Linked DNA regions of Homo sapiens. The protein of the gene in region 2 purifies or fractionates together with the protein of the main gene of each other region. This does not show direct contact. Each region holds a gene or a part of one and is shown on either strand. Other genes may lie near its edges. The genes, in order: TSEN2, ZNRF1, NMT2 and NCEH1.

Region 1 (4,713 bases), on a different chromosome or scaffold from region 2:
ACAAAGCTGGCCCTGCCCGATGTGGTGGGTGGCCTTCCTTGTTAACCACCACCACCACCAAACAGGGCTCTATTTCTGACTGCATGCAATTTTTAGGATAGCGCCATTTCAGCTGAGATAGTGATCTCAGGTCCAGTCCTCCACGTGCATGACTGGTAGTGATGCACACCCGCCAACATCTCTGAGCTTCAAACACCCCTCTGTGGGTCCCTCCTCCTGAATTCACAAGGCTGCTGCAGGGATAAATACACAGGCATCTGCCGCATCTCAACTCCCACTCTCCAAATGTTTGCTATCACGGTTTGCAAAATATTTTACCCCATATTGGCTATCCAAATTAAATATAACAAACATGTAAGGGTTTGCAGCAATATCATTCAAGTAGTGTCTGGACCCATTAAGAGGATACAGCTCAGGCTACCACCTTAGCCTAAGTATTCTACCACCGAAGAGCAAGTATTCCCCCTTCCCATTTCCCCACCACCCACATTTTTTTTTTTTTTTTTTTTTTTTTTTGAGACAGGACCTTGCTCTATTGCTCAGGCTGGATTGCAGTGGCACAATCTCCGCTCACTGCAACCTCTTCCTCCTGGGCTCAAGCGATCCTCCTACCTTAGTCTCCTGAGCAGCTGGAATTACAGGCATGTGCTACAATGCTTGGATAATTTTTGTTAGTAGAGAGGAGGTTTCACCATGTTGCCCAAGCTGGTCTCCAACTCCTGGGCTCAAGCGATCCATGCGCCTTGGCCTCCCAAGGCCTCCCAAGTGCTGGGATTATAGGTATGGGCCACCATGCCCAGCCACCCATCTCCCTCCTCTTGCCACCAGATGCCCTGAGGCAACTTAAGTCTTCATGACTTTCTCACCAATTACAAAAAGGCTTTATTATATTTTGCCAAATGTTAATCGCTTTCATTATGTCTCCAAACATTATTTCACCACTCATTTTTATAACAAGTGCAGTGAAGATATGCTTATCGAATATTGTACAATACTGTTGTGTTCTGTAACACTCTTTCGGGAACAGCTTAGATGTAGGTAACAAGAGATGCCTGCGTATGAAAGTGCTTCATAAACTGTACTGTATAAATGTAAACTACTACCATTTTCAGGTAAAATCAGAGAATAAATGTCTCTTGTTGGAAGTGTCCTCTCAGGACTCCTCTAGTCCAATCTCCCCAGTGAGTGGATGAGGGAAAAGACTGACGCCAGAGGCAGGAGGCTCTGGATTGGAGAGTTAGAGGCCAACGCAAGTATAGAATCTGCAGTCCTAGCACAGGGATCTTTCTCCTCCCTTGTGTAATTTATCTTTAAAAACACTGATAGTTTTCTGGTGCTGGGAGCACCATGCCCTTTAAAACTTATGAATTAATGGACGATTACAACAAAAAGAACTTTTTACCTAGCCCTCAATAAATAGTTGTTGGTGAAATTAGAAATTTGAGGTTGAATTGTTAAAGATCGTCTTGGTCACTCCTCTCTCGTGAAGAAACCCATCGACTCAGAATCACCTCCTACAACCAATAAAAAAAAAGACCATTTCTTAAAACAGAAATGTAAGACCATTCTGACACCACAGCTGACACCACAGCTACATTTCACAAAGGGCGGTCTATATAATGATGATACTGTTCCCACCTTTAGAACAGAAACATCTGGAGAAAATGAATGTAACAATATAAACCTTACAAGCATACAGTATCTACTTTCACCAGGCAAAGATTTTAACAGCTAAGCTTGCCTCTGCTGTGGTATTCTACTAGCACATTTCAGAAACAGGTGGGCGGGATGAAAGCTAGCATTTTACATTAGAGCTAGGTCTGTGATGGCATTGCTGTAACGGGGCCAGCTACTGAGAAGGGAGAAATGAGGTTGATGAGCATTTTATGAGAAACTAGCCTAGTGGAGATAAGTGGGACCAACTGAAGGGAAGACGTGCTGGGGCCCTGGAGACCGACCAGCAGGTCTGCAGGGGCAGGGTGGTGTGAAAAGAAGACAGGACGACAACAAAGACATACTGGATGTTGGGAGGAGCCAATGGCAACGTTAAGGCTCTACACACAGAGGGAGGGAATGCAGAAACACGGACACACACTAGACAACTCGGCCAGACCAGAGAGAAACAAGCCAAGATGACAGGAGGCGCCTTGGTTCAATACAGAAGCCCAGAAGCAGGAACAAGTCAACAGGGACACCTCTGGTCTCTGGGAATGAGACCTGTGAGAAGTCCTGGCCTGGCCAGGGGGTCACAGGCCACCTGTAAGAGAGCAGTTTCAGCTGAGTGATGGGGACATCACAGGTAATAAAGTGGGGAATTAAGGAATAGAGGAAGTCAGCATAGATTTCGTGTCCAATGGGTTCAATGGGGAAAAGGTGAGAGACTTAAGAGCCTGCCTGAGAAGGCTCTGTTACCAAGGCAAAACTGTATTCATGTATTTTCTTGGGACCACATGTTCCAGATACACTATGATTCACAGAATCTTTGGGATGACATGAATTTCTCTGAGTTTACCCACCTGAACTTTAATCCTTTTCATACATTCTGGTGACTCCATTTCCTTGTCAGTCATAGTAGAGGGTTTAATCAAATAGCACAGCATAAGTTCCTATTGAGAAATGAAAAACCACTTCTGTATCCTACAAAATAATAGTACAAATTTGGGTGCATCAGCAGGAAATGCAGGTGGTCTCCAGTCCCTCTCACTGTGCACTCCAAGTGGAAACTCACAGAGCACATCAGTTTCCTCCTGGGGAAACCATAACTGGGATTTACGTTCTGACTAAGTACCTGCCGTTTAGTAATCACTGAACATGGCAACAGATATAAGCAGATACATTGATTATAAACACAGCATTAAGAATACTAAATATAGTAAGTCCTCAAATGTCCTTGATAGGTTCTTGGACACGGACTTTAAGTGAAATGATGTTGATACGGTTTGGCTGTGCCCCCACCCAAATCTCATCTTGTAGTTCCCACAATCCCCACGTGTCATGGAGGGACCTCGTGGGAGGTGATTAGATTATGGGGGACGGTCCCCATGCTGTTCTTGTGACAGTGAGTTCTCATGAGATGTGATGGTTTTATAAGGGGCTTCCTCCTTCACTCATCCTCTCATTCTTGCTCCTGCCACCCTCTGAAGAGGTGCCTTCCACTATGATTGTAAGTTTCCTGAGGCCTCCCCAGCCACATGGAACTGTGAGTCAATTAAACCTCTTTTCATTATAAATTACCCAGTCTCAAGTATTTCTTTATAGCAGCATGAGAATGGACTAATACAGATGTACAGCAGGTCTTCAAATAAACTTCAACATTGTTTTCTTGAAATGATGAGAAGAAAAAACGGTTTTGTTATACGACATTAAAGTTGCAGTTTCCAAGAACATATCAACAATGTTAAGTGAGGACATATTAAGTATATGCTACAAGTCCCCTAAAATGGGCATAAAAATTCTAGAAACAGTATAGGCTCCCTAATTTTCTATAGGACCAAGCTAAAGCCTAGGCAACCTAACCTGCTCTAAAGGGCAGTCATCTCTAGCCCTGCAAGACCCTCTGGCCTCAGCCCCACCTCACCTCCAGCAGCATGAGGATGAAATTAGAGGGTATCTACAATTTGTTTTCAGCCAGCAAATCACTGAGTAATGAGAACACACACAGCTTTCTTTCTTGATAGTCCTTGTGTAAGCTGAGTCCCTCCTATCTCTGATGGCAACACGAAGGATATAGTGAAACAAAAGCCAGGGAGCCAGAGAGCTGTGGGTTTGGATCCCGAGTATGCACATGAGCTGTGTGATCTTGGATTAGCCACTCAACGGCTCCAACCTTGGTTTCTCATCCTCAGGATGAGGATAACAACAGGGTGGGAAAGTGCTTAGCAACAAATATCAAGTCCCTTCCTCTCTAAGAGATCTGCAAACTTTCAATGTTTTGACTCCTTTGTGAATATGTGTATGAGTGAATGTTAAATTGCAGTATAAAACAAGTCACATAGCAACGATACCCCTGGGAAGAGAAGCAATGCCTACCCAGATCAGATCACCATGGGACACTCCAAAGCTCCGTCATTGGAGCTCAGCAGCAGTTGGGAGGGAGGGGACAATAAAATGTAACATGAGGGGAGGACAACTTCTAGCGCAATAAGGGAAGGGTACGAATGACCCCAAATCTTCCAGCATGTCACTGGCAGGAATGTTATGAAGTTTCTACAACTAACTTTTTTGATTCTACTACATTTAAGAAAAAAAAAAAAACTGAACCATTTAAGTGACACTCCAATGGCAAAGCTGATGTTGTGTTACCTTAGAGACATTAACGGAAACTCTGCTCAAGGCAGCCAGGGACTTCCAACTGAGAGGCCTGCGGAGAGAGCCTTCAAAATGGTCATCAACTAGCTCGATAATGACAGAATAACTGGAAAATACAGAAAAAGCATGTTAAAAGTAATCATGAAATAAATCTGTTTAAAAAGAATATTTGTCCTACCAAGAACAAATATACAGAAAATGAAATTTGCATCATCTGATTCTAAATTCCCCTAAATTGCTATTGAGAAAATATTAATGAAAAATTCATACTTTAAGTTACAAACTTTCAGGCTGATTCCAAAACTTACAGGAAAAAACAAATACTTTTCCCAATGTGAAAGCTGTAAATTCACACAACTGTTTAGGCACTAATACTAACTAATTTTTTTTTTTTTTTTTTTTGAG
Region 2 (7,034 bases):
AATTAAAGATGCACATGAAGAGTCTGAAAATCAGTTTTTCTTTTGATATTCTCACTGAGAGGACAGAGGACCCCTCATACTGAGACATACGAGGAATTTCTTGGTAGGTACTTAGCTGGAATCACAAAGAAAAGATCACCTGCCCCAACCCAGAAATAGGGCTTTGGAAAAAAATGAGTGAAGAGAAGTATATCCTTGCAGCAGCCTTATGGACAAACACCTACATTTATTTGTTTATTCAACAGAGGAGCTGATGAAAAGGTAAAATCTCCCAGAAGCTAAAATATTCAGACTCTTAAGGAGTGAGGAAGCAAAGATTCTTGGAAAGAATAAGTTAATTGCTCTATAATAAATATATATATTCTCAGCACCTACCATAGGTCCTGGTATACCAGAGGCTATCAATGGAATAAATGAACGTTTTTGTTCAACAGATCATCACACACAAAGAAAAAAAAGTCTTATACTTTTGGGTCAGTCAGAGAAAAGGAAAAACAGGTCTTCCAACCTCTTTAAAGCCTAGATTCATCCTAAGCTCTTGACTTGTCTAGCTGCCTGGCTGAAGATGTAGGAAAGAGGGTAACTCAGGAAGCCCTTCTGTAGCACCAGAGCCAAAGAAGAAAAGTCAGGAGGAAGACAAGTGCAGAAGGAAAGGCGACACTGACACCATTACCTTCTGTTCAGAGCAACTTCAATTCTCAGACCAAGGCAGATTGGCTTGGCCCTATATGTAGGCAATAATGCTTAGTCCCATGTAAAAGAAAACCATCAAATAGCCAACAATGTTGTTCCTGGTTGAACCTACCTTCTGCGAGCTGTAGAGATTGCTTAGCAAATATCTGACTAGAAATACTGAAAATAAAGGCCAGGCACAGTGGCTTCACACTTATAATCCCAGTATTTTGGGAAGCTGAGGTGGAAGGCTCACTTGAGGCCAGGAGTTCAAGACCAGCCTGGGCAACATGGTGAGACCCCTTCTCTACCGAAAAAAGAAAAAAAAAGTAAAAAAATTATCTGGTCATGGTAGCATAGCATCTGTAGTCCCAGATACTCCAGAGGCTAAGGCTTGAGAATTGCTTGAGACCAGGAGTTCCAGGCTGCAGTGAGCGTGATCTTGCTATTGCACTCCAGCCCGGGCAACAGAAGAAAAACCTTTCTCTAAAGAAAAATAAGAAGAAAAAACAAATAAAAAGAAAGCTAATGAATACACCAAAAAAGGATTCAAAGTTTATTTCTCTGTTTGGGGAGAGAAAAACTAAATGCTTGGTGGAGTTTAGTTTCAGATGTAGAAGGTCTTCTTGTTTTCAGGTTCATTTGTTACAAACTTAGATTCTTGGGTCTCCAGCTCTACTGAATTCTGTGAGTGGGGTCCAGTCATCTGCATCGTTAACTACCTCCCTAGAGAATACTGAGCACCTTTAAGAACCCTTCTGAACCATTCACAGAAATCAGGAGAGCTCTTGTTTTTATCTGCCTCTTTCTTGTTACAGATCCAAGAGGTCACTATAAATTCTTATCATGCCTCCCCTAAGTTGGAATTCACAGGGATCCAGTGAATTATTCCTTCCTCCTTTCTCCCAACAGAGGAAAGCTGTGTGTTCAAGACTAACGACTCTAGGGAGGTCTCAAGGTAAACAGTCTCATCAGTCTAGAAACTATTTCAGCTGCTGCTTTAGGATTAAATTTGGGGTCTGGCATCGTCGCTGACACCTGTAATCCCAGCACTTTAGGAGGCTGAGGCAGGAGGATCGCTTGAGCCCAGGAGTTTAAGACCAGCCTGGGCAACAAATGGAGACCCCATCTACACAAAATTAAAAATTAGCCAGGCGTAGCGGCATCCGCCTGTAGTCCCAGCTACTCAGGAGGCTGAGGAAGGAGGATCGCTTGAGCCCTACAGGCTGAGGCTGCAGTGAGCCATGATCGTGCCACTGCACTCCAGCCTGAACAAAGCGAGACCCTGTCTTAAAAAAAAAAAAAAAAAAAGATTAAACTTGGTTATTTGCTTCACACTTCACACTTGAGGGCTGGTCTTCAGGTTATTCACTCATACCCACAACTCATCCTTCATCCATACAGCACATAAAGGACAGAAACCCAACTGCTGGATTCAAGGATAAACCTGTGTTCTAGTGAGAACCTAAGATTCAGAAGTGAAAACTGCTGGGTCTCTAAGAATCCCCTTCTCACACTCAAGACTGAACCCATGGTAATTACTATGAACCATCTGATTCAGACTAGGCCATGAGAAAGCTTGGAAAAGAAACAGACTGAAATTTATATTCACCCATCATCCTAAAAGACTGAGGTGGCCAGGCACGGTAGCTCATGCCTGTAATGCCAGCACTCTGGGAGGCCAAGGCAGGTGGATCACCCGAGGTCAGGAGTTCGAGACCAGCCTGGCCAACATGGTGAAACCCTGTCTCTACTAAAAATACAAAAACTAGTCAGGCGTGGTGGTGCATGCCTGTAATCCCAGCTACTTGGGAGGCTGGGGCAGGCCAATCACTTGAACCCGGGAAGTGGACGTTGCAGTGAGCTCAGATCATGCCACTGCACTCCAGCCTGGGTGACAGAGTGAGACTCTGTCTCAATAAACAAACAAACAAACAAACAAACTGACTGAGGTTAAGATTTAGGTTTTGGGCTAACTTCAAGATTCTAGAACCACAACCTTAGTGATCCACTGTCATTAAAAACACCCCTACCTAAGGATGAGTAGGAGCAGAATCAATATCCCATTTAAGTTACCACCACTTCCCTATGAAGTTTTTCTAATTTTGAAGCTGTCAAAATTGAAGCTTAGTTTTATAATTGGGTATACAGCAGTACCCCTTGTCCAAGGCTTCACTTTCCATAGTTTCAGTTACCCGTGGTCAATGGAGGTCTAAAATATTAAGATACCATGACGCACCACCCTACATGCATGGGTCAACAAGCAACTGCATACATGATGGTGGTCCCGTAAGACTATATCCTGTACCTTTTCTATGTTTAGACACACAAATACTTACAACTGTATTACAATTGCCAACAGTGTTCAATACAGTCACATGTTGCACAGGTTTGTAGCCTAGGAGCACTAGGAGCAACATATAATCTAGGTATGTAGCAGGCTATACCACCTAGGTCCGTGTATGTACACCCTATGATGTTTGCCCAGTGACAAAATCCCTTAATGACCCATTTCTCAGAAAGTATCCCTGTCATTAAGCAATGCATGACTGTACTTTCGAGACAGGGAGAGAGAGAGAGAGAACACATTCACATAACTTTTATCACAGTATATTGTTATAATTGTTCTATTATTAGTTACTGCTGTCGAGCTTTTATTGTGCCTAATTTATAAATAAAACTTTATCAAAGGTATGTATATACAGGAAAAGACATAGTAGATATAGGGTTCAGGTGAGGTACTATCCACGGTTTCAGGCATCCACTGTGGGTATTGGAACGAATCCCCTTTGGATAGGGAGTAACTACTATACTCAAATTTCTGTGCCCAATAAGCTTGGGGTGAATACCACATATGTAAAATACAAAGCATGTTCCTTTTCCCAAAAGGAACTAGAGCTTGCTTCATTTCTTTGGCTAAGAATGGCCTAAGTATTCCTTGTGACATGATATATTGAGGTGGGTCTTTGTTTAATATCAAAATGTAGTATCCCATAAAGCAAACGCTTTAAGAGCTAAGCCACTGTTTCTTACAACACCATTCAAACCTCAATAAGCAAGAGTTAACTATGACCTTCAAGAAATTATCTTTGCCTCGGGGTAACTTTTGTATTTTAAGAAAATAAGCCCTCATGGTAATAAAGAGCTAAAAATTCTGCTTTTTAATACAAGTTTTCATTAACAATAGAACTTTTGCAGGGCAGGAGACCCATCATGCTCTTTGGAGACCACAGAATGCTTTTCCTTCTCCAGAAACCATGTGAAGGCCCATTACTTCTAGCACACCTATGGCGGGACACAAAGGCTTTCTGATTCACTCCAAGGGAGCTGGCAATTCTCCCCCATTAGCTAACAATAAAAGAAAATTAAATCACTTGAGAACCCTACAGTGGCAGCAAAATAGAGCCCAAGAGATACCTCCTAGCATGTTCAAAGACTTATTAAAAGCCACGTTGGGCCAGGCGTGGTGGCTTATGCCTATAATCCCAATACCTTGGGAGGTTGAGGTGGGAGGATTGCTTAAAGCCCGGAGTTTGAGGCCAGCCTAGGCAACATAGTGAGACCTCATCTCTACAAAAGATTGTATAAAATTTAGCCAGGTGTAGTGGTGCGCACCTGAGTCCCAGCTACTCTGGAAGCTGAGATGGGAAGACGGCTTGAGCCCAAGAGTTTGAGGCTACAGTGAACCATGATTGCACCATGGCACTCCAGCCTGGGCAACAGAGCAAGACCCTGTCTCAAAAATAAATAAATAACAAAAACAAAACACAATCACCTTGTATCAGTCTCAGTTGATGGCTTGATGACAATAAAGAACAGTTTAGACTTTCTGAAAGTGCATACATATATATACACATATGACTAAGAAGGTGAAGTGAAGCCCTCAATGGCCAGCCCTTTTATAGTAGAACCTAGAAAACAGCAACTTCTTTCAACATGGTGGATGGTGCATGTTTTGTACCCCACATTTAGAAATCCATACTCTGAGACAAACAGAACTACCGAAAGAGAATGACCAGGCCTCCAGAATAGCACCGAGGCAGCCATCAGGAGTTATAGCAAAACTTTTTAACGTGGAAAGGGAGTCACTCTGCTTCTATAAAGCAGCCCTTATCAGCGGCATTATGAGTAAAAGCAGCCCACTAATGCAGGCCAGACTTTAGGACACAGAACCAGATTCCATTTGGGGGCTACAGCTAGCACAGCTGTAAACCTCTCTCCACCCATCAAATTCTGAGACCATTAGGCCTGGCACGGTGGCTCATGCCTGTGGTCCCAGCACTTTGGGAAGCCAAGCTGGGAGGATCAACTGAGCCCAGGAGTCTGAGACTGCAGTGAGCTATGATCTCGCCACTGCACTCCAGCCTGGGTGACAGAATAAGACCCTGTCTCAAAAGAAAAAAAAAAAAAATCTGAGGCGATTGAAGGCAGACAACTATAAGAGAGTGCCCCCATAGGAACTCCACCACTCTCCATTTAGAATGTCCTTTGACTTTTGTGCACATTATCTCATGAGACCCTCACTATGACTCTGAGAGGTAAGCAGGACAGGCGTCTTCTACATTTTACAGATGAATAAATTGTGACTGAGGTTAAATGACTCGCTTGCCCAAGGTCACAAATCATGCAGCTAATCAGCTGCCTAACCAGGAGATGAGCCTAGCACTCTGACTCGTAGGCCAGCGCAATCTCCAGGACACCATGCGGCTTTGTGATGTTTTCAGATAAGAGGCGGAAGAGGGTACTGGTTAAGAGCCCAGGTTCTGGCACCAGCCAACCTGCATTCCAATCCCATCTCCACCACCTACTAACCACCTGATCTTGTGTGAGTTCCTTAACCTCCCCAAACCTGTTTCCTTACCTGCACAATGGGGGTGGGAGAGAACAGTCTTACTCCATAGAGTCAGAGTGATGATTAAGTGAGATGATGAACATAAAGTACTCAAATTCATGTACTCAAAAAATGTGAGTGGCAGGCACAGTGCAGGACCCACAACAGAGATCAAGGAACACAGTCCTGCTCTCACGGAGCTTAGACTTTAGGCAAACCATACACAGAAAAAAGTAAACAGATAAAATACTTACAAAGTGTGTTAAGAATGATTAAGGTGCAGGGCGCAGTGGCTCACGCCTGTAATCCTATCACTTTGGGAGGCCGGGTCAGGCAGATCACCTGAGGTCGGGAGTTTGAGACCAGCCTGATAAACATGGAGAAATCCCGTCTCTACAAAAAACAAAATTAGCCCCAAGCTTATTGGGCATGGTGGCGCATGCCAGTAATCCCAGCTACTCGGGAGGCTGAGGCAGGAGAATTGCTTGAACCCGGGAGGCGGAGACTGCAGTGAGCAGAGGTCGCACCACTGCACTCCAGCCTGGGCAACAAGAGCGAAACTCTGTCTCAAAAAAAAGAATGATTAAGGTAACAGGTGAGTGACTGGAGAGAATAACCGGAGGGGCCAATTTTTAAGAGTGGTCTCTAAGCCCTAAGGGATCAGAAAGAGAAATTCGTGTGAAGAACGGAGAGAAAAGCACTCTAGGATTAGGGAATGGTATACGTGGGGGTCACAGCACAGGGAAGTCAGGAACCTAGAGAAGACAAATGTGACTACAGCGCTTCCTCTCCCGGGATTTGCGGAGCAAGGCTGGAGCTCGTGAGGGTGACCACAACTATTTTAAAAACGACAAAGATAAGGCTCAAGAGAGGGGATATGTCTTGCCCAAGGTCACAGCTGCTCAGAGGAGTAGCTGGGACCAGGGCCCTTCAGTATTCTACCTCCAGACCCAGCCTAAGCCCACGCTCTCTGAGAAGGCCTTGTATACACTGAACTCCCTCATGTATTTCACTGACAACTGTTTTCTGTGCCCATGAAGAGTTGCAAGAGCACCTTGAAAACACAAGCAAACATATCATATCAACTTCCAGGCATCTAATTAATTGTGCACCAAAATCGTTACCCTTCCAATCTTGCAACAGAAGAGCAAAAGCTGCTTAGACCTTACTCAAAGGCTCCAAAGCAGAAACAAGTTTTGCTTCTTGCAGCAATGTGTAACAGAGGAAACAGATGTCCTGGAAGATCCCATGGTCTGTTTCAGGTGAGATGGAACCAATGCTGCACACGAAGATTCATCTCAAATGAAATGCACAGGAAAAGCCAATTACTTTATGTGAATAAAAGAATAAATCCCTAAAGCAGTGGTTCTCAACCAGAGTGATACCACCCACACCCCAGAGGGCATTTGGGAATTCTTGGGGACATTTTGGGGTGACACACTGAACTGCTGGATGCTATCAGCATTTAGTAGGTATGCTCGATGTCTTGCAGAAGGACATGATGGTCCTACACAGTAAGGAATGGATTACC
Region 3 (7,034 bases), on a different chromosome or scaffold from region 2:
GGGTTTCACCATGTTTGCCAGGCTGGTCTCGAACTTCTGACCTTAGGTGATATGCTTGCCTCGGCCTCCCAAAGTGCTGGGATTACAGGTGTAAGCCAGTGTAAAGAGTTAAATGTACTCTTTAACTTTTTGGTCCACCCAAGCGTGGAAGTGGCAAACCACTATAAAACTTTCATGAATTACAAAAAACATGGGGGAAGAAGGGATTGTCAGTTTTAATTAGTGAGACTATATTCAGACAAGTATAATTTTATTATTTTCAAACAATGTTTGGCAATTAGAACCAGGCTAATAGAGGATTGCCTAAAGACATCTTTATATAACTTACTTTAACACACGATTTGCAATTAGAATTAGGGAGTAGGTCTTTATAAAGAGCTTGAAGGAGCCTGGAAAGACTTTCTACATAGATAAAAATTAACCTCAGTCCAGCTTCCTATATGAATTATTAGAAATAGTCCAGATTACTGAAGATTTCTGTTCTGCTATGGGTGGCAGTGGTACAAAAAGGTGACCTGGAGGATGATTTTTTTTTTTTTTTTGAGATGGAGTTTTGCTCTTGTCACCCAGGCTGGAGTGCAATAGTACGATCTTGGCGCACTGCAACCTCCACCTCCCGGGTTCAAGCAATTCTCCTGCCTCAGCCTCCCAAGTAGCTGGGATTACAGGCGTGCATCACCACGCCCAGCTAATTTTGTATTTTTAATAGAGACAGGATTTTACCGTGTTGGTTAGGCTGGTCTCAAACTCCTGACCTGAGGTGATCCCCACCTCTGCATCCCAAAGTGCTGGGATTACAGGCGTGTGCCACCATACCTGGCTAATTTTGTATTTTTAGTAGAGATGGGGTTTTACCATGTTGGTCAGGCTGGTCTTGAACTCCTGACCTCAGGTGATCCCCTGGCCTCGGCCTCCCAAAGTGCTGGGATTACAGGCCATGGTGCCCGGCCTGGAGGATGAATTTCCTAGGAGCTTTCACCGTTGGATCTGAGGTTAAGATGCTCAAGGATCTTTAATACTTCCCTCATTTTGCTGTGTTTTTGCCTTCTGTTACTTTCTTCTGAAGGGCTTTGGGGACATTGAGGACAGGCCAAATTGTTGAAGAATTATTTAGAACCCACTGTCTTCTCGCTGTCCTTTTGATGTCCGGCTTCTCCAGTTATGAAATACATTTGGTATTGGTCATGATCTCTTACTGAGCTAATGTTATGGTCCATTGTTGGAGACAGAGTCAAATAAAATTCGTGTTGAACTTTGGTAACAAAACCAAATCTGTCCCCTTGCTTAACCAACATTGACTTACAGAGAGCATATACTTCCTAGAAAAATAGATGTTTCTCATAGCTTTCCGTTAAGAGAGCTTTTCCCTCAATATTCACTGGAAGCAGCTACTAAGAAGATTTATATAGGAACCAAAATAAACATAGGTGAGTATGTTTTTGTTGGCAGATACATGACTAAATTAGTCCCTGGGGTAGACATGAAATAGGGTTAAGACCTTTTTTTTTTTTTTTTTTTTTTTTGAGACCAATTCTCGCTCTGTCCCCCAGGCTGAAGTGCAGTGGCGCGATCTCGGCTCACTGCAAGCTCTGCCTCCCAGGTTCACGCCATTCTCTTGCCTCAGCTTCCGGAGTAGCTGGGACTACAGTAGGCGCCCGCCACCACGCCTGGCTAATTTTTTTGTATTTTTAGTAGAGACGGGGTTTCACCATGTTAGCCAGGATGGTCTCCATCTCCTGACCTTGTGATCCGCCCGCCTCGGCCTCCCAAAGTGCTGGGATTACAGGCGTGAGCCACCGTCCCCGGCCTAAGACGTTTTTAAGAGTTCTTTTTCTTAGAAAGATTGAAGATCTGGTATTGGACAAAGATGAAAACTTTGGAATTCTTTTAACAAAGAACATAATCTGTCTTCTACCATCCCCAATTTAGGGGGTAAAAAAAGGAAGTTCTTCTTTGGGCACTATGTTGTTGTATCTGACTTCATATGTCTGTTGTTGAAATTGAGTTGGGAACTTCCCCTTTGTCAGCTGTGTGGTATCAGTGGGAAAATGCAGAAACATTATGACTTGCAATAAGTTTTTCTTATGGAAAATTTAGGGATAACTCAAAGCTGCCCTTTCTGAAATTTGATCTGTTATCAACTGTATAAATCTAAATGGAAAAATAGATTAACGACAGTCTTTGCCTGAGGGACCTCCTCAAATCAAGAACTACTGTTTGAAATGATCAAGTGTCTGCTAAGACTTGCATCTGAATGGGTGATGTCACCCTTTGGCCCAGAACAAATTTTTTCCAGGGTTGTCTAAATATAGGACACATACTTTGCCATCTTTGTTTGTTAGTGCAAATGTACGTTATACATCTATACTAGTTAAAATCACTTTATTTTAACAGAACCAAGTTCTACTCCAAGTTCAAGAAATTGATTGTTGTTTTCTTTGAAAACATGTTAATGACGTTTTAAAAATACGCTTATTCAAAAATCAAACAATAGGGCCAGGTGTGGTGGCTCATGCCTGTCATCCCAGTGCTTTGGGAAGCCAAGGTGGAGGATCGCTTGAGGCCAAGAATTCAAGATCAACCTGGGGAACATAGCAAGACCCTATCTCGATGAAATAAAAAATGAGCTAGACATGGTGGTGCATGCGTATAGTTCCAGCTACTTGGGAGGCTGAGATGGGAGAATTGCTTCAGCCCAGAGAGCTGTGATCGCACTACTGTACTCCAGCCTGGGCAACAGAATGAGACTCTGTCTAAAAATATACATATATATATATCTCTCTCTTATATGTATATATTTATATATATCACATATATAAATATCAAAAGATATCAAATATATAGATATATAAATATCAAATATATAGAGATATATAAATATCAAATACAGATATATAATATCAAATACATAGAGATATATAAATCAAATATATATATAAATAAAATATATATATATATCAAACAATAAGGTATATAAGGTAGAGTGAAAGCCCCTGGTCACCTTATTTCCCAGAGCTGTCACCACTGATAGTTTAATGAACTCACTTTTTAATATGTGTGTGTGTTTAACATCGCTGGGATCTTACTGTACCTGGGTGCATTTGTTACCATGTATGTTTCGCTGACTCTTATTGTTGTGTGCTGGAACTTTCTGGGGTGATAGTAATCCAGTTGGGCAGTCATCAACACATGGAGCACTTGCATGTGACAAGTGTGACTGAGCTGAATGTTTTTATTTTATTTGAATTAATTTAAATTTAAATAGCTCCATGTGACTAGTGGCTATCATACTGGACAGCTCAGATCATATTCAGTCTTTGAATTTTGTTTATAAGCTTTCTTGGTACTCAAAAATTTCTGTATTTTATTTCCTGTCTTTGGTAGAATATGTCTAGTTTTCATTCTTTTTTTCTTCTGTGGATTATCTGTACACTTTTTTTTTTTTTTTTTTTTTGAGACAAGGTCTCACTCTGTCATCTGGGCTGGAGTGCAGTGGCACAATCTCAGCTCACTACAGCCTTGACCTCCTGGACTCAAGTGATCCTCCCACCTCAGCCTCTCAAGTAGCTAGGACTACAGGCACATGCCACCACACCTGGCTAATTTTTGTATTTTTGTAGAGACAGGGTCTCACTATGTTGTCTAGGCTGGTCTCGAACTCCTGAACTCAAGCAGTTCACCCACCTCCGTCTCCCAAAGTGTTGGGACTACAGGCGTGAGCCACCGTGCCCGGCGATCTGTACATTTTGAACAAGTATGTTTTCATCTATATTTCTTTATCCATATCAAAAAATTAACCACTATTTAAAATATTCTACCATCTCACAAGAAAAATCATGTAGGATATTTTGACTTCTTTTCATTTCCTAGGTTTAATTGAAATAACCTGGAATTGTAATTCTTTTATTTTTGCCCTTGTGTCACTAGAGACTTTTTTCTTAACTATTACATGTTTCACATTCCTGTTAACAAAAACATTTTAGACTTTCCTGACAGCTTTATTGTTTTTATGGGTTTCCATCGTTCTTTATAAAACACATCCTCCCGGCCAGGCGTGGTGGCTCGCACCTGTAATCCCAGCACTTTGGGAGGCCGGGGTGGGCGGATCACCTGAGGTCAGGAGTTCGAGACCAGCCTGGACAACATGGTGAAACCCCATCTCTACTAAAAATACAAAAAAACATTAGCCAGGTGTGGTGGCGGGCGTATGTAATCTCAGCTACTCGGGAGGCTGAGGCAGGCAGGAGAATCACTTGAACCCAGGAGGTGGAGGTTGCAGTGAGTCGAGATTGCACCATTGCACTCCAGCCTGGGCGACAGAGCAAGACTCTGTCTCAAAAAAATAAAAGTAAAAAATAAAACACATCCTGTCTTTTTCTTCTTTAACAGCATTCTCACATGATTTTTTTTCTTAGAGTGCGTGGATGATGTATTTTGAGTTCTTGCATGTCTGAAAATGCCATTCTTTTCCCCTCCCACATAATACATAGCCTGGGTGTGCATGTGACTCTATGATAACAATCGTTTTCCTTGAAACTCCATAAACGTTTTAATATCTTCCAGTATTTACTGGTACAGATGTTGTTTTCTTTGTGTTTTTTTTTTTTTTTTTTTTTTTTTTTTTGATTTTTGAGGCAGAGTCTCGCTCTGTCACCCAGGCCAGGCTGGTCTCGAACTCCTGACCTTGACCTCAGGTGATCCACCTGACTCGGTTCCCCAAAGTGCTGGGACTACAGGTGTGAGCCACTGTGCCTGGCCAGATGCTGTTTTCTCTGCTTCTCTGTCTTTTATAGGTAATCTTATTCTTTTTGTCTGTTTTAACTTGTTTTCAGTCTAGAAGCTTCTGGCATTTTTTCCCTGTTGTTCTATTACCAAAGGGTTTCCATGTCCTTTCACATGCTGGGATCGCCTGTCCTTTATTTTTTATTTTTTGCAATGGAGTCTTACTCTGTTGCCCAGGCTGGAGTGCAGTGTCGTCATCTTTGCTCACTGCAACGTCCACCTCCCAGGTTCAAGCGATTCTCCTGCCTCAGCCTCCCAAGTAGGCAGGATTATAGACGCACACTACCATGCCTAGCTAATTTTTGTATTTTTAGTAGAGACGGGGTTTCACCACGTTGGCCGGCTGGTCTCGAACTCCTGACCTCAAGGAATCTCCCCACCTCAGCCTCCCAAAGTGCTGGGATTACAGGTGTGAGCCACTGCACCTGGCACCTTTCCTTTACTATCTAAACAAAATGGCCTGAGCTGATACATGTTCATGGGGGTTTCTTGGGGTCTTAAGTTTTCATGGTCCTCAGGCACACCCACACTGCAGCCAACTTGCCCCATCACCGGGCTCCTTGTGCCTGTGTGTCCTTAGGGTGCTCTTTTTCTTCAACATTTGACCTTGGGTGGAACACGGTTATCTTCAGTTCTGTGTCTCTCACCACCCTCCTCCCAGGAATCACTAAAATCCAGCTATTGTGCACAGCATTTGCTGAAGCGTTTGTGGCTAATGGGGAGGGAGGGAGGTCTGATTACAGAGTAGCGCAGAAAACAACTTTGAATTCAGTGTCAGACATCATTGTTCACCAAGAGGAATTTGTTACTGCTCACGCCTTTCTGTGGGTCATGGCTTCCTCTGCTTCTGAGAGTGTCTCCTGATCTTTCTTCTCCTCTTCTCTAAGTTCAAGGTCAGCCCAAATGTCCTTTCTTTCATGAAGCCTTCCGCAGCCACTATGACCAAAGGCGCTGACCCCTGCCGGAAGCCCTGTAGCTCTTAGTGAGTGTATCTTTCCCGTGACATCTTTCCCAGTTGCTCTCACCTCATCTCCCCAGCCCTCTGCTCGGGAAGACCCTCATTCTCCTGCCCCAAGCTGTGGCTCCTAGAGGTGAGTTCCTTGTCCACAATCACAAATGGGAGATGTGGGTCTTTGCGTCTGTTGCTTAATGTGTGTGTAGCATCTACCAACCAGCTAGAGTAAAAGGTTTTATTTTGCTGGGCGCAGTGGCTCACGCCTGTAATCCCAGCACTTTGGGAGGCCGAGGCGGGTGGATCACCTGAGGTCAGTAGTTCGAGAGCAGCCTGGGCTACATGGTGAAACCCCATCTCTACTGAAAATACAAAAATCAGTCTGGCACGATGGCGGGCACCTGTAATCCCAGCTAATCGGGAGGCTGAGGCAGAATTGCTTGAACCCGAGAGATGGAGATCACTTTATAAGCACATACTGCAGTGAGCCGAGATTGTGCCACTGTACTCCAGTGAGCCTGGGCGACAGTGAGACTCTGTCTCAATAAATAAATAAATAAATAAATAAATAAATATTTTAAGGAGGTTTTATTTAAATATACAATAGGTTATCTGAAAATAAAGTATGGCTGGACTTTATTAGAATTAAACATTATAGAAAGTCAAGTACCCAAGGTCCATCTGTCTTTCTAACCTCTCTCCCTTTCTGTCTCAGTCTCTGTCAACTAGACTGCCCCAAGCATCTGTTCCTTAGTTCAGATTCTCCAGAAAGGATCTCACTGGTTTCTGGCCAAGAAAGGGATTATCCAGGCATGATCCAGTCCACTGTGATGGAGAAGGGAAAGGGAGGGGTAGAAGAGAATTGTGTGGTACAACATGGCCACTGAGGGCCACACCTTTGGTGAGACCTGTGGGCAAAGGGAGTTTTCAGGGAAGGACATAGTGAACAATGCTGGCACCTTGCTGGGACTGAATTGTATCTCCCTGCCAATTCATATGTTGAAGCCTAAATCCCCAACGTGATGGTGTCTGGAGGTGGCACCTTTGGGGGGTAAATAGCTTACAAGGGTGGAGTCCCCATGAATCGGATCAGTGTATGCTTATAAAGAGATAGAGTCCAGTGCTTTGTTGCTCTGCCAAGAATAAGGCCCTCACCAAAAACCTGACCCTGCTGGCACCCTGATCTTGGTGGACTTCCAGCCTCCAGAACTGTAAGAAATAAATGTCTTTTCTTTAAGTAATCAGTCTATCGTATTCTGTAATAGCAGGCTGAACTAAGACACACCTCAAAACATGTTTG
Region 4 (7,034 bases), on a different chromosome or scaffold from region 2:
CATTTGATTTTATCTACAATGAATGTCAAGATGTTTAATTACCTAGCAGGATTTTATTTTGAGACAGGGTCTTGCTCTTTCGCCCAGGTCTTGTTCTTTCGATCTCAGCTCACTGCAACTTCCACTTCCTGGGTTCAAGTGATTCTCAGGCCTCAGCCTCCCAACTAGCTGGGATTACAGGTGCATACCACCATGCCCGGCTATTTTTTTTTTGAGATGGAGTCTTGCTCTGTCACCCAGGCTGGAGTGCAGTGGCACCATCTCGGCTCACTGCAACCTCCGCCTCCTGGGTTCAAGTGATTTTCCTGCCTCAGCCTCCTGAGTAGTTGGGATTACAGGCGCCCACGACCGTGCCTGGCTAATTTTTGTATTTTTAGTAGAAACGGGTTTTCACCATGTTGGTCAGGCTGGTCTCGAACTCCTGACCTCAGGTGATCTGACTGCCTCTGCCTCCCAAAGTGCTGGGATTACAGACCTAAGCCACCGCACCTGGCCCTTTTTTTGTATTTTTAGTAGAGATGGGGTTTCACCATGTTGGCCAGGCTGGTCTTGAATTCCTGATCTCAAGTGATCCACCTGCCTCAGCCTCCCAAAGTGCTGGGATTACAGGTGTGAGCCACCGCTCTCAGCCCAACTAGCTGGATTTTAGACTGTGGAAAATAAATGTCTTTATTTAGAGTAGCTTAGAAAAAATTAGTTTGTGAAAATAAGTATGCTAATTATAAGATGGAAATCAAAAGTCTTGAGTCTTCATTGGCTGTTATTAATTTTTAATTAGGTAATTAGTTTTTATCCTACCTAATTTTGGTCTGTTTTTGAGTTTTTGCAAATCAAGTAACTTTTGTATGCCTTAGTTTCTTCGTTTGCAAAATGAAGGTATGTTAATACTCAAAAAAGATTTATTGGATGGATGATTATGTGCCCCTCACATTGGCAGATACTGGAAGCACAGTTATGAATAAAACACAGTTCCTGATATCAGAGAACACAATCTTTAGGAAAAACATATGATAATTTTCATATGAGCCAATAAGAACAGTGAGTGACGTACCCTGGCACATAGAAATATCAAGGAATGGTAGCCAGTTCAAGCCCAAAAGCAAGTGGAGATATGACCAAGGAAGGCTGCCCAGAGGAGGCCAAACCCTCCAGTTAAGGCTTAAAGGATGAGTGAGAATTAATAAGCAAAAGAGGGGAGTAGAGAGTGAGAGGGAACTCTAAACCAAGATTGCCAATGTAGATGTGTAAGATAACACTATGGGTGAGGCATTTGACAAAACCAGAGCTTTCTGGGAATCTTAAGGGGATATGAATTCTACTAGGTGTACAGAGTAGGATTCCAAAGGACTCTGATCTTGCGAAGTGGGGCCAGTTGGAGAAGCCCCAGAAGTATCCCCGAGGGCCTGCTCTAGGCCGTCTGGAAAACTTAGCTTCCCTTTTGTGAGTTAACAACCGGCCTTTTAGTTACAGTCTTCCAGGTATTGAATGCATTTCTTGGGTTTAATGTCAGGCTAATATGGACCTCTCCAGTGAAGTACAGTTTTATTATATGAAGTAAATGATGGACTCATTAAATGTGAGATCAATGAAGTGGTTAATCCTGCCAAGTCACCTCGTAACCCAGAGGCATTATGAATGGAATGCTGACTTCCAGAAATAAAATTCTAAAATCTATTACGGTGCTATCCATGTCTTTGTAATGAACATTCGCCTTTTACTTGTTAGTTTTATTTTGGTTGTTCTTGGTGGTAAGTAGGTTTGGTTTGGTGGCTGATAGTTTAAAGAAAAATAGTACTATTACTAATACAAAATCATCACATTTTAAACTAAGTATTTGATTTGCAAGAAAATGGTTTATTTTTATATTTTATTATTTTTTCTTTTTCATACAATAATTCCATTGAATTAATTTCTTATCTATTTCCAGATTTAAAAGAACCAGTTTCCATCTAAACTTTAAATGTCCCCCAAAATTGGAGAAGGCCTTAAATGAATACAACTTTTGTTTTTACAGATACAGGCTAGTTCCAAAGGTTTATTTTCCTGAGCAAATTCATGATGTTGTACGGGCCACAAAGTATTTCCTGAAGCCAGAAGTCTTACAGAAGTATATGGTTGATCCAGGCAGAATTTGCATTTCTGGTGACAGTGCTGGTGGAAATCTGGCTGCTGCCCTTGGACAACAGGTAACACCACTGTCCTAAGGTGCTGGTGGGTTAAGCGGTGCATGACAAGGTCTAGCAGACCAACACACCCTCCATTATGTGTGGCAAATGCATAGCTGGGTGGGCCGGTCACTAGATGGCCAAATTGTTCATGTGATTACACTTGTAGAGCTCTCAGAGATCTCGTTGAAGTAGGAAGATGAGTCATTGGAGGAAGTATCACCTATGAGTCTTTGTAAAGTCCCTGATTACAGTCAGTGTTAGAGAAGGGCTGACATCCCTTGCTTCTCAGGGCTATGTATGGAACTCCAGTATCCCCTGCTCCTTTTTCATGTTTGACTTGCAAATCGGAGTATTTTTGCTTAAATTCCAGTTCCTAAGATTGTTCCTTACAACTTTGAGCCAAATTAAAACCTTAAAATTTGTTTCCCCAACTTTTTTTTAATGTAAAAGAAAGAAATTAAACGATTCAGCCATTTAAATATTATCTTACAAGTTACTATGAGCTTTACCTGGTTTAATTCTTTGAAAACTATATCTAGCTTCTAATAGCACCCCAATTTTTTTGGCAAGTGGGAAAAAGCACATTTTCTTCCTGTTATGGATGAAGTAACTTAAGACATCTTTGTCTTCTCACCTCCAAATTTCATTTGGTGTCCTCAAATACCATCTGTCATTCTAATTATGATGTACCTTGGCTTCTAACTCTTTTGCTATAATTCAAGAACTTGATTTTCCATTTGGCATTGGCAAGTTTTCCATCCAAATATGGTCAGAAGAGAGTCTTGGCTCAGTGGAGAGAACATTCTTGGCTTTGAAGCCAGACAGCACTGGGATCTAACCCAGGACCCACCGTTGAGTGCTGCGGGGCCCTGGATAAGTCCCTTAACCTCTCTGAGCCTCAGAAAAACGAGGACAGTGTCATCTGATTGCAGGGCTGTTGCAAGGACTTAGTGAGGTGATGTGTATACAATTTTTGGCACATATTCAAAGTGCTATTTACTGACCATTCTTGCTTTTGGAGAGCAGTCATATCTCACCTGGGAATGGGTTTCTAAAGTCCAAGTATGAAGCAGAAGTGTATGGCTAAAGTTACCTTGAAGATCATTTAGTTGTCTATGAAGCTTCATGACTAGTTAGCTTTCTTTTAGATGTTACACGACAAATATATAATTTTGCACACTAGAATTACAAAATGGGGCAATGTTAACACTGTGGGGAGGTGTTGGGGGACTGAGATCTGTTGAGGTAGGGGATTCATTCACATTCCCATGACAACTTCACTCTGGCATATGCTCATTATGTAGAATGGAGGGTGCATTGCCAGAACTATTTAAATTCTGTCTCACCAAGCGTGAAGATGCTCACCAGAAAGCATACCCTGAGGTCCTACTTAAACACTCAGGAGTCTCATAATCTGCTTATTAAGTTTTTTCTGCCCCTCTCTTCTGGAAGAATAAGACTAATTTTTTTCCCCCTAGGAAGCCATGACCTTTTTGGGGGTTTTGTAGGGAATAAAAAATTAAATAAGGTTCACACATTATCCATTCATAATACCTAGGTGTCTTAACTGCCTAAAGATAGATACAAGTACAGGGTTCACTCAAAACTGAGTTGTAAACATCATACCTTTCTTAGTTAAATATCTAGCAGCTTGATAGGGTGGTGATGGTAATGATGGAGAATTATTTTTTAAACTTTATTATTTATACAGTGCCTGGTAGAAATGTAACACTTATACCATTGACAGATTCAGAGTAACACATGAAGCTACTCTACAGGGTATGGTTCCTATAAAAGAAGGCATGCAAAATGAAATAATGTATTTGCTTCCTCTTCTCTAGTTTACTCAAGATGCCAGCCTAAAAAATAAGCTCAAACTACAAGCTTTAATTTATCCAGTTCTTCAAGCTTTAGATTTTAACACACCATCTTATCAGCAAAATGTGAACACCCCAATCCTGCCCCGCTATGTCATGGTGAAGTATTGGGTGGACTACTTCAAAGGCAACTATGACTTTGTGCAGGCAATGATCGTTAACAATCACACTTCACTTGATGTGGAAGAGGCTGCTGCTGTCAGGGCCCGTCTAAACTGGACATCCCTCTTGCCTGCATCCTTCACAAAGAACTACAAGCCTGTTGTACAGACCACAGGCAATGCCAGGATTGTCCAGGAGCTTCCTCAGTTGCTGGATGCCCGCTCCGCCCCACTCATTGCAGACCAGGCAGTGCTGCAGCTCCTCCCAAAGACCTACATTCTGACGTGTGAGCATGATGTCCTCAGAGACGATGGCATCATGTATGCCAAGCGTTTGGAGAGTGCCGGTGTGGAGGTGACCCTGGATCACTTTGAGGATGGCTTTCACGGATGTATGATTTTCACTAGCTGGCCCACCAACTTCTCAGTGGGAATCCGGACTAGGAATAGTTACATCAAGTGGCTAGATCAAAACCTGTAAAGGAGCAAAACTTCCAGAAGCCTCGAGCCCCTCTTGACCTCCTACACCTGCTTTGGAAAGACATGCACTTTTTAGTTGACTAATTCTTCCTCCCATTCCCCTCTACTTGCGAGTTATGGAATTTCTATTCCATAACTGAAGTCTTTATGATAACCTAATTTTTAAAAATGAATTTGACTAACTTAAGTGCAAAACATGTAAATTTGGTTCCCAGAGTGGGCCAATCTCTCTGTTCTTGTTATCTTAGCCAACTATACTGATACCTACAGCTACAGAAAGCAGGACTAGGAACTGGAAATAACTTTGGGTCCTGCCTTCATTAGGACGTTCTTTTTAGAAGCAGTTCTTCCAGCTCTGGATCATAGAGTGACCTTTAATAAGTTAAAAAAACGAGGACTCCTTAATTCTGCTAGAGTTAACCTTGAGTTCAGAGCAGTATTAAATGCGTGCACTTTCAGGTCAGTACTGGGGACCAAGTACCCTCTGGTCTTTTGTGAATGGATGGTTTTGTTTCCTATGGGAATTTTGGCAAAGGTTTTCTGGAAAGAACAAGTTTCTCAAAGGACTTTCTTCCTCTAGAATGTTCATTTTATGAGATCGCTATCTGTAAGTCCAGTTGGATTACAGGAATACTTGAAAGTTACTTTCTACCACTATTAGAAAATATGAAGTCGCATGCACTGGATATCTATATATCATTAGGTTTTTGTTGTGTTTTTGGTTATGCTGTCCCCCTTCTCCTTGGGGAGATATTTGGGAGCAAACTTATTTAGATTTAGAGTAAACTTTTCATTATAGAGCAAGTAAAAACAGACAAATGAAACAACCTAGTGTTTCACATAAAAATACTTCTGACATAAAGTACCAAGAGCAGTGTGAATATACTTGGCATAGTCAAAAAAGAAAATACATTTAATATTAGTTCAAAATTGTTAAAAATACCTTTAGAAGGTCTAGTCTATTATTGAAAACTCAATTTTTTCACTTATATGGCTTTAAAATGGAGCTATTTTGCTACAATATAATGTATTGTTTATTTTTTTAAGTTATTTAATGTTAATATACATAGCTAGACTTAAGGTTTTTCAGAAAGATGTCCATAATAAATATTAAAAACAATGGTATTTTTTAAAAAACTGCCTTAGGGTTTTAAAACCTTCCCTACAGTTATAACCACGTGTAATTTTGTGGAAATGATATAACAGCTATTAATACTACTATAACATAGGCATAAATATTTTCGTGTTTATATGCATATACAAGTTAAAATAATTAGAAACTATGACTGCGCCTAGTAAAGTCATCTAGGTTTATAGTTCAGTAGCTTAGGCAAGGCACACACTGCTCATCTCCGCTTTTTAGGGTCAGAGGAACACAAGCTCATGTTCTGAGTGAAGGGCGTACACTGGCACCTGGTGTTGCCTAGATCCCCCATCTCCTCCTTCCAGCCAGGTCTGGAAGTTTCAACAGCCCAAGCTTAACTTCATGTAAAGTCTTCACTGCCAGTGGGAACATCTTTGACACAACAAGACACTCCAATTGTGATTTGAGTTGAGGATCTCTGCCTGCCTTCCTGCCGTCCTTCCTTCTTCCCCGATCCATGCTACTTTTAGGGGCTGCGGAGAGCAGCAGCAGAGCTGAGTAATGATACAGGGCACCACGGAGAGAAAGTAGAACCATTTCACTCCTGGGAAGATGGGGTATTTCCCACTTCCAGCAACGAAATAACAAATGAAAAGTTGCATACTTATTGATGTATTGTATGAGCCAGTAGCATTTTATGTACAAAACAGAAGTCAATGCAACAGTATGTATGTGTGCCTGTGTGTGTATAAAAATAACCATTGAAGCTAACTTGCTAATGTACTTAGGCAAGCCACTTCCCATCTCTGGGCCTCGTCTTTCCTCCCTCTAAAATCAAAGAGCTGAATTATGTGATCCTTGAGGTCTCTTCCACTTATAATACCAACTGTCTTGTCAGACTGGCAAATTATATTGGCCTCTCCTTATGTGGTGGTTTTTTTGGTAGGTCATAGTTCCTTATACACAGACACCTGCATCATCGAAGGTCTTTTTTTCCTAAAAAAAAAAAATGGGATTTTAGTTCTTATTCTGTGATAACTATCCTCCTCATATAATACTATTCTTTTTGACACCATTTGAAGGAACCAATATTTGGACCTTATTTTGAGGTTGTCTGTCTCGAAGAAAAAGAAAATAAAATGTATAGGCAGGGTTCCTTCAATTGGCATTTTCCCCAGAATTGTGAGCCAAAGCCTATAGTAATTGCAGACAGCAAATGATTCCGGATCTCTAAAAGGCTCTCTCAGATGAAAAGGGAGTAAAGGAAAAAAGAGGTCAACCACTGTTTCTGATAATGTACTTGAGTTTCATTGTTCTTTTAGTT

The links.
Region 1: the proteins of ZNRF1 (region 2) and TSEN2 purify together in Homo sapiens (affinity purification with mass spectrometry; 2 studies listed by BioGRID and IntAct, with this or other methods). This does not show direct contact.
Region 3: the proteins of ZNRF1 (region 2) and NMT2 purify together in Homo sapiens (affinity purification with mass spectrometry; 3 studies listed by BioGRID and IntAct, with this or other methods). This does not show direct contact.
Region 4: the proteins of ZNRF1 (region 2) and NCEH1 purify together in Homo sapiens (affinity purification with mass spectrometry; 2 studies listed by BioGRID and IntAct, with this or other methods). This does not show direct contact.

The regions. Positions count from the first base shown.
Region 1 is NC_000003.12:12,529,463-12,534,175, reverse strand, and holds the end of TSEN2 (tRNA-splicing endonuclease subunit Sen2), read right to left. Parts: intron 4,415-4,713; coding exon 4,303-4,414; intron 3,322-4,302; coding exon of another isoform or gene 3,298-3,321; exon of another isoform or gene 3,014-3,297; intron 2,607-3,013; coding exon 2,517-2,606; intron 1,515-2,516; coding exon 1,455-1,514; 3' UTR 518-1,454; downstream 1-517.
Region 2 is NC_000016.10:75,002,009-75,009,042, reverse strand, and holds part of ZNRF1 (E3 ubiquitin-protein ligase ZNRF1), read right to left. Parts: intron 6,801-7,034; coding exon of another isoform or gene 6,673-6,800; exon of another isoform or gene 1,965-6,672; intron 1-1,964. UniProt on the Homo sapiens protein: E3 ubiquitin-protein ligase that plays a role in different processes including cell differentiation, receptor recycling or regulation of inflammation. Mediates the ubiquitination of AKT1 and GLUL, thereby playing a role in neuron cells differentiation.
Region 3 is NC_000010.11:15,158,672-15,165,705, reverse strand, and holds part of NMT2 (glycylpeptide N-tetradecanoyltransferase 2), read left to right. Parts: intron 1-5,669; exon of another isoform or gene 5,670-5,873; intron 5,874-7,034.
Region 4 is NC_000003.12:172,631,068-172,638,101, reverse strand, and holds part of NCEH1 (neutral cholesterol ester hydrolase 1), read left to right. Parts: intron 1-2,014; coding exon 2,015-2,186; intron 2,187-4,009; coding exon 4,010-4,627; 3' UTR 4,628-7,034.